Homo sapiens: one gene and its partners. The protein of the gene in region 1 purifies or fractionates together with the protein of each later gene. This does not show direct contact. Each region holds a gene or a part of one and is shown on either strand. Other genes may lie near its edges.

What was found. Proteins that work in one complex are often made in the same cells at the same time.
Region 2: the proteins of GAS2L1 (region 1) and LRRFIP1 purify together in Homo sapiens (affinity purification with mass spectrometry; 2 studies listed by BioGRID and IntAct, with this or other methods). This does not show direct contact.
Region 3: the proteins of GAS2L1 (region 1) and PRMT8 purify together in Homo sapiens (co-immunoprecipitation; one large-scale study listed by IntAct). This does not show direct contact.
Region 4: the proteins of GAS2L1 (region 1) and GNB1L purify together in Homo sapiens (affinity purification with mass spectrometry; 3 studies listed by BioGRID and IntAct, with this or other methods). This does not show direct contact.

What each region holds. Positions count from the first base shown.
Region 1 is NC_000022.11:29,305,314-29,309,449, forward strand, and holds the start of GAS2L1 (GAS2-like protein 1), read left to right. Parts: upstream 1-1,336; 5' UTR 1,337-1,840; exon of another isoform or gene 1,841-2,773; 5' UTR 2,774-2,792; coding exon 2,793-3,425; intron 3,426-4,136. UniProt on the Homo sapiens protein: Involved in the cross-linking of microtubules and microfilaments. Regulates microtubule dynamics and stability by interacting with microtubule plus-end tracking proteins, such as MAPRE1, to regulate microtubule growth along actin stress fibers.
Region 2 is NC_000002.12:237,634,087-237,637,586, reverse strand, and holds part of LRRFIP1 (leucine-rich repeat flightless-interacting protein 1), read right to left. Parts: intron 1-3,500.
Region 3 is NC_000012.12:3,497,703-3,501,202, reverse strand, and holds part of PRMT8 (protein arginine N-methyltransferase 8), read right to left. Parts: intron 1-3,500. UniProt on the Homo sapiens protein: S-adenosyl-L-methionine-dependent and membrane-associated arginine methyltransferase that can both catalyze the formation of omega-N monomethylarginine (MMA) and asymmetrical dimethylarginine (aDMA) in proteins such as NIFK, myelin basic protein, histone H4, H2A and H2A/H2B dimer.
Region 4 is NC_000022.11:19,820,375-19,823,874, forward strand, and holds part of GNB1L (guanine nucleotide-binding protein subunit beta-like protein 1), read right to left. Parts: intron 1,002-3,500; 5' UTR 982-1,001; coding exon 854-981; intron 350-853; coding exon 224-349; intron 1-223. UniProt on the Homo sapiens protein: Acts as a critical regulator of DNA damage response (DDR) signaling via specifically regulating phosphatidylinositol 3-kinase-related protein kinase (PIKK) family proteins.

The DNA of each region.
Region 1 (4,136 bases):
CTCACTTCCTTTCCTGATGAGGGATTTTAAATTGCAGCCCCCTCACACCCACACCCTCACCCGGCTCCATCCCTGTCTTCTCTGCACCTCATCCCTGTCTCTGCCCTGGGGCTGCCTCCCTGCCAGACTTGGACAACAGGCCCTGAGAGCTGGCTCTGCTTGGTTCCCTGCTGTTTTGCTGTTGATTTCCAGTGCCCAAAGAGACCCAGCACACAGTAGGTGCCACGCAGGTGTCAGCCTTGAGGATTGCTAGTTACTGCCTTCCTCACTGGAGGAAGTGCCATGGGGGGCGCTGAGGTGAGAAAACGCCTTTGAAAAGGTCACACAGGCCAGGCAAGTGGCTCACACCTGTAATCCCAGCCCTTTGGGAGGTGGAGGCGGGCAGATCACCTTAGGTCAGGAGTTCGAGACCAACCTGGCCAACATGGTGAACTTGTCTCTACTAAAAATACAAAAAGCCGGGCGTGGTGGCAGGTATCAGTAATCCCAGCTACTCGGGAGGCTGAGGCAGGAGAATCGCTTGAACCCCGGAGGTAGAGGTTGCAATGAGCCCAGATCCAGCCACTGTACTCCAGCCTGAGCGACAGAGCGAGACAAAAAAAAAAAAAAAAAAAAAAAGGAAGAAAATAAAAAAGAAAAGGTCACAAGGACTCTCTGGGATGCCTGTGAATGCCTGGCACCAAGAGGCCTGGCTCACAGGTGCTCAACCAATGCTGCTGATCCGTGGATGAGGGCGTCCCCATAATCGTCATGTTCAAATCCTGGCTCCACCAGCTGCTCTCCTGACTGTGCCCCAGTTGGGCATGAGTGTCCTTCACAGAGGTGACACACCAGTTCATTCAGGTCAAGGGCGCAGAGCAGTCCTGGCAGCACACAGTAGGAGATTTATTGGAGCTCTGAGCCTGGCTGTGGTTGGCGGCTTCCCTGCAGGCCTGCCCCACCCGTGTAGCATGGCTGCCGCCCAGACCCGCCCGACGTCCCGCCCAGCCCAGCCGGCAGCAGCAGGGGGCAGGATTTCCCGCTGATCCCGGCGGTCCGTCCTCTGCAGTTTAAAAAGAGCCCAGCGGGGCTTAACCCTCCCGCGTCCGGCCGGCCTCCGATGCCCCCCGTCCCCTGTTCTGTGCGGAACTCCGGCTTTGGCCATCTGCCTACTTCTCTGAGCTTCAGTATCCTCATCTGTAAAACCGGTTCCCCTCATTTCAGGGTCAAAAATGAGCATTCAGTGAGCACAAGGAGCCCTCAGTCGCCAGGGGCATCCTCCCCCTCCCCGCGGCGGTGCCGTTTATCTGGCCAGGGGAGGTCCACCCGGGAGGAGGTGACTTTGCAGCCTCCAGCCGCTATCGCTTCCTGCCTTCATCTTGGGAACAGGCCGTGCTGTGCGCCAGCCCGGGGAGCCCACCGTCTGGGGAGGGGGGCGATTAAAAGGTCCCAACCTCCTCCCCAGGAGACCAAAGAGGTTGGACGGGGCCCCGGGTACTAGGCTGGGTGGGGGTTGGGCGCCTGGGCCGGTCGCAGTTGTCTGGGGGCCCTGGGGCTCTCTGCGTCGAGAGCGCTCGAAGACCCGGGATTCCTGGCCCGATCGCGGGCGGGGGGAGACCCCAGCTCCACCCCAGCTCCCGCCGGCTCGGGGAAGGGGCGGCCCCTTTAAGAGCGCGCGGCCCCGCCCGCCCCCTCCGGGCAGGATCCGAATTCCAGGGAGGCGGGGCGGAGACGGCGGCGAGGAGGAGGCCGCGGCGCGGGACGCATAGAGCTGCGGCTCGGGCGGCGCCTCCCTGCGGCGGCCCGGCCCGGCTCCGGCCCCCGCTGGGGCAATGCTCCCCGGGGCCGCGGGATGAGCCAGGTGAGCGCGGAGACCCCCAGCACTCCCTGCCTGGTGCGCATGGACGGGGGTGGGGAGGCGGGGCGGGAAGCGGCGTCCTCGGCCTCTGTTCCCCGGGGCTGTGTGACCTTGGGCGGCCCCGCACCCTCTCTGGGCCCAGAGCCCCAGCACCGGCAGGGCCTGCGGAGGCCGCTCTGAGTCCTGGCCCCGCAGGCACCGGCCTGGAGCGCTGGGGAGGCTTCTTGGAGGAGGCGGGGCCTGGCCCTGGCCCCGGATCGCCGAGACCGGCCACGCTGCGCCGCCTGGACGCCGGGCTCCTCCACCCACAGCTCTGCGACCTTCACGAGCTCGACCCTTTCTGCGCCTCAGTTTCCTCATCTATAAAATGGAGATAATGCCTCCGCGCGCTGAGCCCGAGCGCGGTCGTGCTGTTACACTATTGCTGCTGCTATGTCGTTAATGACGGCACAGCCCTTATGGAAGGGGGGCCAAGGAAGGCACGGGGACCTTCCCGCAGGACATGGGGTGGGCACCAGCCCTAAGCCATGCACATAACCCACTCTGAGGTCAGGACCTGGGTTCCTTTCGTGTCCACTGGGGGCCTTAGCCGTTGTCTTCACTTCTCTAGGTCCCAGCCCTTCACAATGGGCGCGCCTCCCTGCCTGAGAGGGAGGCCCCAGCCAAGCCCCAGTTTCCACCGCAAAAAGCCACACAGCAAACACTTAATGGACCCTAAATTTATAAAAATTATCCCATAGAGTCCTATGAGGCAGGGAATGTTACTGTACCCATTTCGCAGATGAGGAAACTTGGGGCACCGACATTTCCCAGAGCCAACATGTAAACCAGGCATTTGGCCTGAGTGACAGACTGGTGCAGGTGGCCAGCAGCTTAATTTGTACTGAGCGCTTACTGGGTCCCCACAGCGATCCTGAACTGTGTTCCTGCCCACAGTGACTCGGCCGGTCCGGGCATGGCAGACCCAGTGGCGGGCATCGCGGGCTCGGCGGCCAAGAGCGTGCGGCCATTTCGCTCCAGTGAGGCCTACGTGGAGGCCATGAAGGAGGACCTGGCCGAGTGGCTCAATGCCTTGTACGGCCTGGGTCTCCCGGGTGGTGGCGATGGCTTCCTGACAGGGCTGGCCACGGGCACGACCCTGTGCCAACATGCCAACGCCGTGACCGAGGCTGCCCGTGCATTGGCAGCCGCCCGCCCGGCCCGAGGTGTGGCCTTCCAGGCGCACAGTGTAGTGCCTGGCTCCTTCATGGCGCGCGACAACGTGGCCACCTTCATCGGCTGGTGCCGCGTGGAGCTGGGTGTGCCGGAGGTGCTCATGTTTGAGACTGAGGACCTGGTGCTGCGCAAGAACGAGAAGAGCGTGGTGCTGTGCCTGCTGGAGGTGGCGCGGCGTGGGGCACGCCTGGGCCTGCTGGCCCCACGCCTCGTGCAGTTTGAGCAGGAGATTGAGCGGGAGCTGCGTGCTGCACCCCCAGCCCCCAACGCCCCTGCCGCTGGGGAGGACACCACTGAAACCGCCCCCGCACCAGGGACTCCTGCCCGCGGCCCCCGCATGACACCCAGCGACCTGCGCAACCTCGACGAGCTGGTGAGTCCCCCAGCACCAGGTGCCAGGGACCCGACAGCACAGCCAGTGCCTGCAATCTGTCCCTGAACCTCCCAGGGTCCACCCTGCTATCTGCAGAACAGTCTGCCCCACAAAAAGAGTGCACATGTTGAGCACCAAACCGAGGAATGTATACCTGACCCCAAGGAAATGGGTAGCCCACAGAGAGGGAGGTGCCGGGGAGATGACGCAGCCCAGCCGGGCCTGGGACAGGATGCGGGCTCCTGGCACGATCTTCCCTCACTTTGTGTGCTAACTGTGCCTCAACTGAGCTTGTGCATTCCTTCTTCTGGGGGGCCGCATGATCGGGGCGCCTCCTCTGTGCCCTCCCTGCAGTCAGTCTTAGGCAGATGTACCCACAACCTCATGGAGGCTCGAGGTTGAGCGGGTGCTGTGATGCTCGGTTGAGACGAGGCATGGAAAAACCTGGGCAAGGTGCCTGGCACACAGTAGGTGCCCCAGGGGGCTCTGCAGGTCTCCCCACTCCCCAGGCACCCCTGGGAAGCCTAGCTGGGTTGCTGCTGTTGCTGGGAGCAGGGATCCTGTTTGGAATTACAGGATTCGTTCTACTCTAAGCATAGGCGTTGCTGGGCCCTGCCCCCAAGTCTCTCCTCTCCCAGGATCTGGGTGGCCCCTGCCACCCCTGAGGGCTGGACCAAGAGTTTCCTTCTTATCAGAAGGTCAGGACTACAA
Region 2 (3,500 bases), on another chromosome or scaffold:
CCTAAACTCTCCAGGTATTTTATTTGTTTTATGGAAAGTATATCTCAGATCTTAGAGAACTTTCCAAGCAAATAAATGAATTATTCCTTTGCTTTTTGTCTTCTTCTTTTTCTCTTTTTGAGATGGAGTCTCGCTCTGCTGCCCAGGATGGCGTGCAGTGGTGTGATCTTGGCTCACTGCAACCTCTGCCTCCTGGGTTCAAGCAATTCTCCTGCCTCAGCCCCCCGAGTAGCTGAGACTACAGGTGCAAGCCACCACATCTGGCTAATTTCTGTATTTTTAGTAGAGATGGGGTTTCACCATATTGGTTAGGCTGGTCTCAAACATCTGACCTCAGGTGATCCACCCGCCTTGGTCTCCCAAAGTGCTGGGATTACAGGCACAAGACACCATGCCCAGCCCAATTCTTGATGCCTGAAGCTATGAAAATCTCATATTTTTTTGTTTTACTATCTTTATTTGCTCAGCTAATTTGACATTTTATTTCGCTCTCAGTAAAAGAATACCATAATGATGGGTTCCTTTGTTTGAGCTGTGTAGACACTAGAGGTTAGCCGTTCTTCCCTGGTGTATGTCTCAGATTAATTTTCAACTTTCTTTTCCAGCCTTACTAGTCCCTTAATCAAAAACAAAACTCCACCTGCAGGCACCAAATTAGAGAAGTCTGACTGGTTAACATTAAGCAATGTTTCCTCCTAACACTGACATGGTGGTCAAGGGCACTGGCCTCAAAGGCAAGAGACTGGGTTCAAATCAGAGCTGCTTGCCCCTGCCTGAGGAACCACTGTCTGGTACCAACACTTCAGCCGCCCTGTGTGGCTTCCTGTTCACACTTTGTGACATCTCTCTTCCTGGCCTTTGCTCAAATTGTAGTCACCATGTTTAGTGCCTCCCTCTAAAATATGAAAGGGTAGCTGAGGATCACCACACATCTGAGAAAGGCTCCAAGATGACAGAGGCCAAAACACACAAAGGAGGAAAAGAAACAGACCAGGATGCAGGGAACAAAAAAATTTTCAGGAAAACCCCCAAATTAAGTGAATTTGCTTAATATCCTTAGAGTAGTAAGAAAAGGTACTGCATTAGTGAGTCAAGAAAGGATGCTATAGAGATAAAGAACAATAAAAAAACTTAGCAATTCAATATAAAACAGGTAAACTTAGTAGAGGGAGTGGATGGTAAAGTTGAAGAATCTTCCTTGAAGTATTACCAAAAGACAAAAAAAAAAAAAAAAGAAAAGAAAGGAAAATGAAAAATTACTTCTTTTTCTGTTCTGTCTTACAGAAATTACTGTAAGACAGAACAGAAAAAATGATGGGGCTAGGAAAAAATTCAAGAAAATTTCCCAGAATTTTAGGATACAAGTTTCCAGATTGAATGAACCCAATGAATGCTCAATAAGTGGGGGAAAAATCCAGAATTCTGAGAATAAAGAGAAGATCCTAAAAGTTTCCAAACTTTTTCTTTTAAATTTTTTTTTTTTTTTTTTGAGACAGAGTTTTGCTCTGTCAACCCAGGCTGGAGTGCAGGGGTGTGATCTCAGCTCACTGCAACCTCTGTCCCCTGGGCTCAAGTGATCCTCCCACCTCAGCCTCCCAACTAGCTGGGACCATAGGCACAAGCCATCATGCTTGGCTAATTTTTGTATTTTTAGTACAGAAGGGATTTCACCATGTTGCCCAGACTGGTCTCAAACTCCTGAGCTCAAGTGATCCACTCACTGCCCTCCCAAATTGTTGGAATTACAGGTATGAGCCACCACACCCACTCACTTTTTCTTTTCTTTTTTGTGGAGATGGGGGTCTCACTATGTTGCCCAGGCTGGTCTTGAACTCCTGGGCTTAAGCGATGCTCCTGCCTCAGATTCCCAAATAGCTAGGACTACAGGCATGCATCACCATGCCCAGCTAAATAAAAAAAATATATTTTTAAAGGAAGGGTCCTACTTTGTTGCCCAAGCTGGACTTGAACTCTTGGTCCTAAGCTATTCTTTCACCTTAGCCTCCTGAGTTGCTGGAATTACAGGTGTGAGCCATAATGCCTGGCTCCTAATTTTACTTTTTTGATATTTATTAGTTTATTTTATTGACTAGTTAATACAGTCACATGGTTCAAATATCAAGAGCATGAAGAGTGGCACTTGACAACCTGCTTCCACCTCCATCCCCACACTCCTTTCATTGTGTTCTGCCAGTGATTTTTATTCAAATGCAGGAAAATTGCAGCCTTTCTCACACAAGGAACAGCATGCTATCTTTATTTTCTGTATATTACTTTTTCCAATTAACAATACTTACTGGAAATTATGTCAAAGAAGACACAGAGTTCATCATTTTTTGGAAAATTATTTTTAACCTAGAACTCTATACACAACCAAAGTATCAATCAAGTATGAATGTAGAATAAAGACATTTTCAGACATGTGAATACTTAGAAAAGGCATTCTTGCTCCGAAAGCTACTGAAGGATGTGTTCCAGCAAAATAAGACAGCAATCCAAGAAGGCAGATAATATGGAATCCAGAAAATAGGGACCTAACAACAACAATAAAAAGGGGGTAAAAGAAATTCTCAGAATGGTGGCAGAGGGAATGGCAGGTGCAGGAAACCCTGAGGAGAACATCCAGACCAGACTGGATCTAGAGGACAGAGGTCTCTAGTGGGTAGATTTCCATGGGAGAATAAAATGGAATTGATAGATTATCTGCTTTGTTTAATCATATAGAACATAGCATTTTGATGGGTTCTATTGAAAACTTTATGGAGATATGTAGATATATAGATAGATAAGCTAGATATGTAGGCAGATGAGCAATGAAAAAGAAAATAAATCATTAACTCTAGAAGAAGCAGAAAGTTGTATAAGGAAAGAAAGATTATAGTACACTGCTTGGCTCTGCAATTGACATTATTTACACAGCTGGCAAGATCATCATCATCACCAGCATTTACTGAGCATTTACTATGTGACAGTCATTGTTCAGAGGTCTTTTTGTGAAAGATCTCATTTACCCTCATAACTGCCCTGGGTGAAGTATACTCCTAAAACTTTCCCATCTTACCTATGGGGGAACTGAGGCACAAAGTTGATAAGTAACTTGCCCTAAGTCATGGTATAAGGGACAGAATCAGGATTTGAACCCAGGAAATCTGATTCTAGCACCCATATTCTTAAGCAGTCTGTCCTGCCAGTGAATATTCATTTAGCCCCACACTACAATGAACTATAGTGTGATGCAGAGAAGGAAAGTAGGGAGCTGGCCTGAACTGGGCCCATGCACACCAAGTCCCGTCCTTCAATGCAGGAGCCAGCTGACAGCATCTGCAATTGATAAACTAATGTGTAATACATATGTATGTTATTTATAAACAAGGAGATCATTACCAGATCATTGAGGGTCTTGTAGCTTGTTTAAGGACTTGGGTTTTACGGAGTGATACAAGACACCCTTGGAAAGTTTTTATCAGAGAAGTGGCATGATCTGACATATTTTAAAAGGA
Region 3 (3,500 bases), on another chromosome or scaffold:
CAGGAGAAGGAAATAAAGGGTATTCAATTAGGAAAAGAGGAAGTCAAATTGTCCCTGTTTGCAGACGACATGATTGTTTATCTAGAAAACCCCATCGTCTCAGCCCAAAATCTCCTTAAGCTGATAAGCAACTTCAGCAAAGTCTCAGGATACAAAATCAATGTACAAAAATCACAAGCATTCTTATACACCAACAACAGACAAACAGAGAGCCAAATCATGGGTGAACTCCCATTCACAATTGCTTCAAAGAGAATAAAATACCTAGGAATCCAACTTACAAGGGATGTGAAGGACCTCTTCAAGGAGAACTACAAACCACTGCTCAAGGAAATAAAAGAGGACACAAACAAATGGAAGAACATTCCATGCTCATGGGTAGGAAGAATCAATATCGTGAAAATGGCCATACTGCCCAAGGTAATTTACAGATTCAATGCCATCCCCATCAAGCTACCAATGACTTTCTTCACAGAATTGGAAAAAACTACTTTAAAGTTCATATGGAACCAAAAAAGAGCCCGCATCGCCAAGTCAATCCTAAGCCAAAAGAACAAAGCTGGAGGCATCACACTACCTGACTTCAAACTATACTACAAGGCTACAGTAACCAAAACAGCATGGTACTGGTACCAAAACAGAGATATAGATCAATGGAACAGAACAGAGCCCTCAGAAATAATGCCGCATATCTACAACTATCTGATCTTTGACAAACCTGAGAAAAACAAGCAATGGGGAAAGGATTCCCTATTTAATAAATGGTGCTGGGAAAACTGGCTAGCCATATGTAGAAAGCTGAAACTGGATCCCTTCCTTACACCTTATACAAAAATCAATTCAAGATGGATTAAAGATTTAAACGTTAGACCTAAAACCATAAAAACCCTAGAAGAAAACCTAGGCATTACCATTCAGGACATAGGCGTGGGCAAGGACTTCATGTCCAAAACACCAAAAGCAATGGCAACAAAAGCCAAAATTGACAAATGGGATCTAATTAAACTAAAGAGCTTCTGCACAGCAAAAGAAACTACCATCAGAGTGAACAGGCAACCTACAACATGGGAGAAAATTTTCGCAACCTACTCATCTGACAAAGGGCTAATATCCAGAATCTACAATGAACTCAAACAAATTTACAAGAAAAAAACAAACAACCCCATCAAAAAGTGGGCGAAGGACATGAACAGACACTTCTCAAAAGAAGACATTTATGCAGCCAAAAAACACATGAAGAAATGCTCATCATCACTGGCCATCAGAGAAATGCAAATCAAAACCACTATGAGATATCATCTCACACCAGTTAGAATGGCAATCATTAAAAAGTCAGGAAACAACAGGTGCTGGAGAGGATGTGGAGAAATAGGAACACTTTTACACTGTTGGTGGGACTGTAAACTAGTTCAACCATTGTGGAAGTCAGTGTGGCGATTCCTCAGGGATCTAGAACTAGAAATACCATTTGACCCAGCCATCCCATTACTGGGTATATACCCAAAGGACTATAAATCATGCTGCTATAAAGACACATGCACACGTATGTTTATTGCGGCACTATTCACAATAGCAAAGACTTGGAACCAACCCAAATGTCCAACAATGATAGACTGGATTAAGAAAATGTGGCACATATACACCATGGAATACTATGCAGCCATAAAAAATGATGAGTTCATATCCTTTGTAGGGACATGGATGAAATTGGAAACCATCATTCTCAGTAAACTATCGCAAGAACAAAAAACCTAACACCGCATATTCTCACTCATAGGTGGGAATTGAACAATGAGATCACATGGACACAGGAAGGGGAATATCACACTCTGGGGACTGTGGTGGGGTCGGGGGGAGGGGGGAGGGATAGCATTGGGAGATATACCTAATGCTAGATGACACATTAGTGGGTGCAGTGCACCAGCATGGCACATGTATACATATGTAACTAACCTGCACAATGTGCACATGTACCCTAAAACTTAGAGTATAATAAAAAAAAAAAAAAAGAAAGGAAAAAAAAAATAAATAAATAAATAAAAATAAAAATAGGGTCTTTGCAGATGTTATCAAGTTAAGATGAAGTCATATTGGATTAGAGTGGCCCCTAATCCAACAAGACTGTTGTCCTTATAAGAAGACGTATAGACACACACAGGAAAGAATGCCCTGTGAAGATGAAGGCAGAGACCAGATGATGTGTCTATAGCCAAGGAAGGCTGAGCATCGTTGGCCACCACGGGAAACCAGAAGAAAGGCAAGGAACAGATTCTCCATGAAGACTTCAAGAGGAACCAACCCTGCTGGCATCTGGATTTCAGACTTCTGGCTTCCAGAACTGTGGAAGAAGACATCTCGTTGTTTTAAAGCCACCCAGTTTGTGGTACTTTATTACAGCAGACCTAGGAGGGTAATACAGGTGATGAAACTACAAAGATAAATTTTAAGAAACAAAGTTCCTGTCCTGGAGACTTTAGTATTCATTTTATCCCAATAAAGTAGCTGGATGAGAGTCCAGATCTAATATTGATGGCCTAGGGTCAAGCTTCCGAAGAGCTATACTTTGTTAGACAAGTACATTGTCTACTGGGTCCAGCTAGGAACCCACGCCTAGGGATAGTTTAGATGCGCAGGGAGAGTGAGGTGATGGCTGTCCCTGCCACAATTATGTCAGGCCCCTGTCACTCACACGGCACAGTACTGGAGACTGTGAAAGTGAGGATGGCAAGATGGCGGTGGAAGCAAGAAAAGACGTCCTGGAAAAAGGAAAGCTGGGCTGGTGTCTCTTCCTAGGCTTCTTCCAAATTCACCATTCCACATTCCTGCTGTTAATTTCTCCACCCTTTCTCTTCACATTTTAAGTTTGTACTCTGGTTCTTCTCATGCCTTCGCAGCCTAGCGGACTAGAAAAAGCATTTTGGTGATTAGAAAACCAGACTTTGAGCTCTAGCCTCATCACTTACCAGCTGTGGGATTTTGAGCAAATAACAGTAACTCTCTGTGCTTCAGTTTATTAATCCATACAATGGGGATATATGTAATTCACAGCATTGCACACAATGCAATGTAATAAGCGAGCATTTTAAGTTCTACAAGAAGGTCAGAGCTCTCACTATGCACAATTCCTAGACCTTATGCAGAGAAACACTGGTCTTAGACAGTACAGATCAGGATATACCAGAAAGTTGGCACAAAAAATAAAAACAATAAATGAGATGCTACGTTTAAAGGAGGTATAAAGAGCACAGACCCAGGAGTCCACAGGATCTTGACCCCAACACGGAAGAGCTCTGTGATATTGGACAAGTAGTTCCTATCTCCTGACTTAAGTGATTTGAGTTTCCACCCAACTTTAACATTCTATGACTTTATGAAAATACGCACATCAAGCTGTTTGCTCAATATAAAATTACACTTTAAAAAGAGATCTTTACTTATGGGCCACTCATTACAAATATGGGAAAAACTGTGATGCTTGAGGGAATTCTTATAACAAGTGA
Region 4 (3,500 bases), 9.5 Mb from region 1:
TGAAGGGTCCAGTGGAGATGGTGGAGATGCAGAGGCAGACCTGCCTGCCTCCCTGTGACAAGGGGCTGGACCTGCACACCCTGCCCTTGCTGCGGACCCTTTGCTGGCCCCTTCTGGTTCCCCCACCCCATTCTGCCCCTCAGTGGGGGACACCAGAGCCTCCATCAGAGAGTTCCTGACTCCCCCGAAGGCCATACCTGGCTCCTGCACCTTGGAGACCCACCTGAGGAGCTGGCGCCCCTGGGGCAGCGTCTGCAGCCAGGTCACACACTGGCCGCCGTGGCCATCCAGGGTGGTAACCGCTCTCCGCGTCTGCAGGCTCCAGATGTGTACCAGGCCACTCTGAGACCTGTTTCAGACAAGCCGAGCAGGGTGTCAGGGGGCAGAAGGGTGTGCTGAATGCTCTGGGGCCAGCCTGGAGGCCACATTGTGGGATGCGGGCATCTAGGCTGGTTGAGCTGAAAAGCCAACAGCTCTAAATATGAACTAAGGGCCAAACTGGCAAAGCACTCCTTGCTCCTCTTCCAGAGAGGGGACCGGGGGACCCTCAGGAGCCTCTAGGGGTAACTCAGGCAGATCTGCTTCTCTGGAGGTAGGGGGAGCCATGCCACAGTAATGCACGCTGGGTGGTCGTGCCTGCTCCTGCGTCTGTAACAAAGAGTGTGTGTGTGTGTCCCTGCCTCCCCCAAGGGACAGTGTGTCTGCTGGTGGGTGCTGAAAGCTCAGCAAGCCTGGGTGGCGAGCAGTCCATGCCCCTTGGCCAGCACCCTCAAACAAGCGCTGGGCTCCTTGCTAGCTCACGACCTCCTGACTTGGCCCTGGGTGGCCTGGGGCTGGGGCCACAGCTACTCACCCTGAGAAGAGGAGCGGGCGCCCCTGAGCCTGGGCTCCTTCGCAGAAGTGCAGCGCATGCACCGGTGACTGGGTGCCTCGGAGGACAAACTGGGGGTCTGGAGGTGGCGGCGGGCAGGGGGCCGTCATGCTGGGCAGGATGCAGTTACCTGGGCACCAAGGGAGGGCGTGTGAGTGACTGCGTCCCTATTCTCACCCTCTAGGAAGGCTGCTCAGGCACAGGGGTGCTTGAGATGTTGCCCCTGCTCATTGTCTCTGGCCCTGTGCCCCTCCTGGGAGAGAGGTGCCACTGCTCCCCAGACACTGATGAACGGCCTGTGGCTACAGAGGCACCAGTTCCCTGCACGGCGGTGAGCCCAGCAGAGAGCACAGAGCTCACCCTTCCCCCACTGCTGGGGGAACTGGGAGCCCCATGGATGCCAGCCCTCCTCGCACCGTGCCTGTTGGCCTCTGCACCTGACTGGTGCACCCGCTTGGGCCCCACCTGAGCCATCCCTGAGTGGGCACAGCGGCATCCAACACTTCCTCGGCCACTCTGGCCTCCAGGGCTTCCTGTCCACCACTGGCTGTGCCCTCTGGCTCCCCAGATCCCAGGGGCCACACCAGTGCTTTCCCACTCTGGCCATCTGCATGCCGGGACTGCCGGTCCTGCCACTGGGCTTGGCTGAGTCCCGCCCTCTGTCCAGGGCTCACTCCAGTGTCTCTCTTGGGAGCCACCCTCCCTCCCTGCTGGCAAATCCAGTCTCCCTTCTTCTCTCCTCCCTGCTGCCACCTCTGCCCATGGCCAGCTCAGGGATCAGGGGAAAAGAGGCACACAGGGTCCCGGGGGGCTGCTAGGAGGAGCCTTCCTCTCACATCTGCTGGGCCCCAGGCCTGCCCCGCCACAATTTCTAACCGCTATCACCACCCTATAAGGCGGCAGCACCCTTTTCACTCTTGGGGAAACCGAGGCAGAGAATAGTCACTGAGCTGCACCAGGCCCCTGGCGCTGAGGCCTGAAGTACTCTAGGGCCTCATGGCACCACTGAAGGGCAGAGTGGCTGGGGCAGAGTCGCCGTGCGGCTCCTTAGGAGAGCTGCGGTCACAGATGAGCAGCTGTTCCCCAGACCACTGGGCCTGTGGGGGAAGACTGCCGGGCCACCACCCACCCAGAGAGGCTTCCCGGGTCCGTGCCGAGCCCTTCCAACCACTCAGACCCACAGGGCCTCGCACTCCACCTCAGCCCCACAGCTGGCTGCTCTGTGGGGTGGCCCTGGAGCCAGAAGCGACCAGCTCCATGTCTGTCTGCCTGCAGACCCTGAGCTGGGCTAAGGGCTCAGAGGGAAAGGCCAGGAGCAGACCACTGGGTGGCTGGGGCAGCCTGTCACAGGGGGCCTTTCCCACTGGGCTCTGGGACAGTGGGGCAGGCCCCGGCCCAGCCACCTGCAGCCTGCACACAAGGCAGGGAGGATGGCCCACGGCAGCCACAGCCAGCAGAGGGACTGGGGCCAGTAAAGGACCAGGGCAGGGGAGATGGGAAGGACTCTTCAGAAGGGGCTGGGTGGTAGGCGGATGGGGGTGCAGGTTCAGAGGCAGGAGTGCTGTGGATGTCTGGAGGCAGCTGTCCAGGGTGCCCCTTCAGCAGCACTGCCACCGCCAAGCCCTGCCTCTCCCCTTCTGAATACACGCCAGCCCTCTCCTTACTCTATTCAGAGCTGGGGCAAAGGTTCAAAACACCTGAGAAATGCCCCTGCCAAGGTGTCCTGCAGAGTGGAGGGTGGACAGCAGCCAGTGCCCAAGCGGGCGGCATGGGGGAGGGCAGGAGGCCTGGGAGGGGCCGGGCAGTGACTCCAGGGCGCAGGTCCACCCTGCCTGGCGAGAGACCTCGGGCAGCCACTCTACCTCCCAACCCTGCCTCTCTCAAGGGGTTCCGAAGACAATGCGGAGTTCCCTGGGATATCCTTTACTAACTGCCAAGTCCCATTTTTCCTTTTCTTTTTTGAGGGGGATGAGAGAGGTTTCGTCCTCTCTCACCTTTGGCTGAAAGCCAACTGATCATGCCCAAACTTAAGGGTGGCTTCCAGGGGAGGCAGAGGGACCAGACCCCACACTGCTCCCAAGACCCACGGCCCCTGCTCCAGCCTGTGATGGGGAAGACTCCAAGACTCCTGAAGACGCAGCCAGGCCGGGGGCTGGAACAGCTGCCCTCAGCGGGCTGGCTTGGAGGACAGTTCTCAGAAGCCACTGCCTGTTTGTGCTATGCCTGCCAGGTAAGAAAGGCAAGCTAGCCAGGGGGACAGGAAGGCAGGGCCCAGCTCCAAGAGGAGCCAAAGAATGCAGACCCGGCAAAAGCACCTCCACCTAGCAGGAAAGCACCGAGTCCAGGATGGAGGGTCCCTCCCATGACTCCAGTCCAGGAAGCAGAGCCTGACAGGTCACCTCTACACAGGCTCCCCTGTGCAGTCCAGGCACGAACACACATTAGACACACGCTATGCTCACACATACACACACATGCACATGGTGCACACAGACACATGCAAAACCCACACATAGGACACATGCCTACACATACATGTTCACACACCCATATGTGCACACACACACATGCACACACACAGGCACACACTCATACCTACATACACATACACACACGCAGACTCAGACAC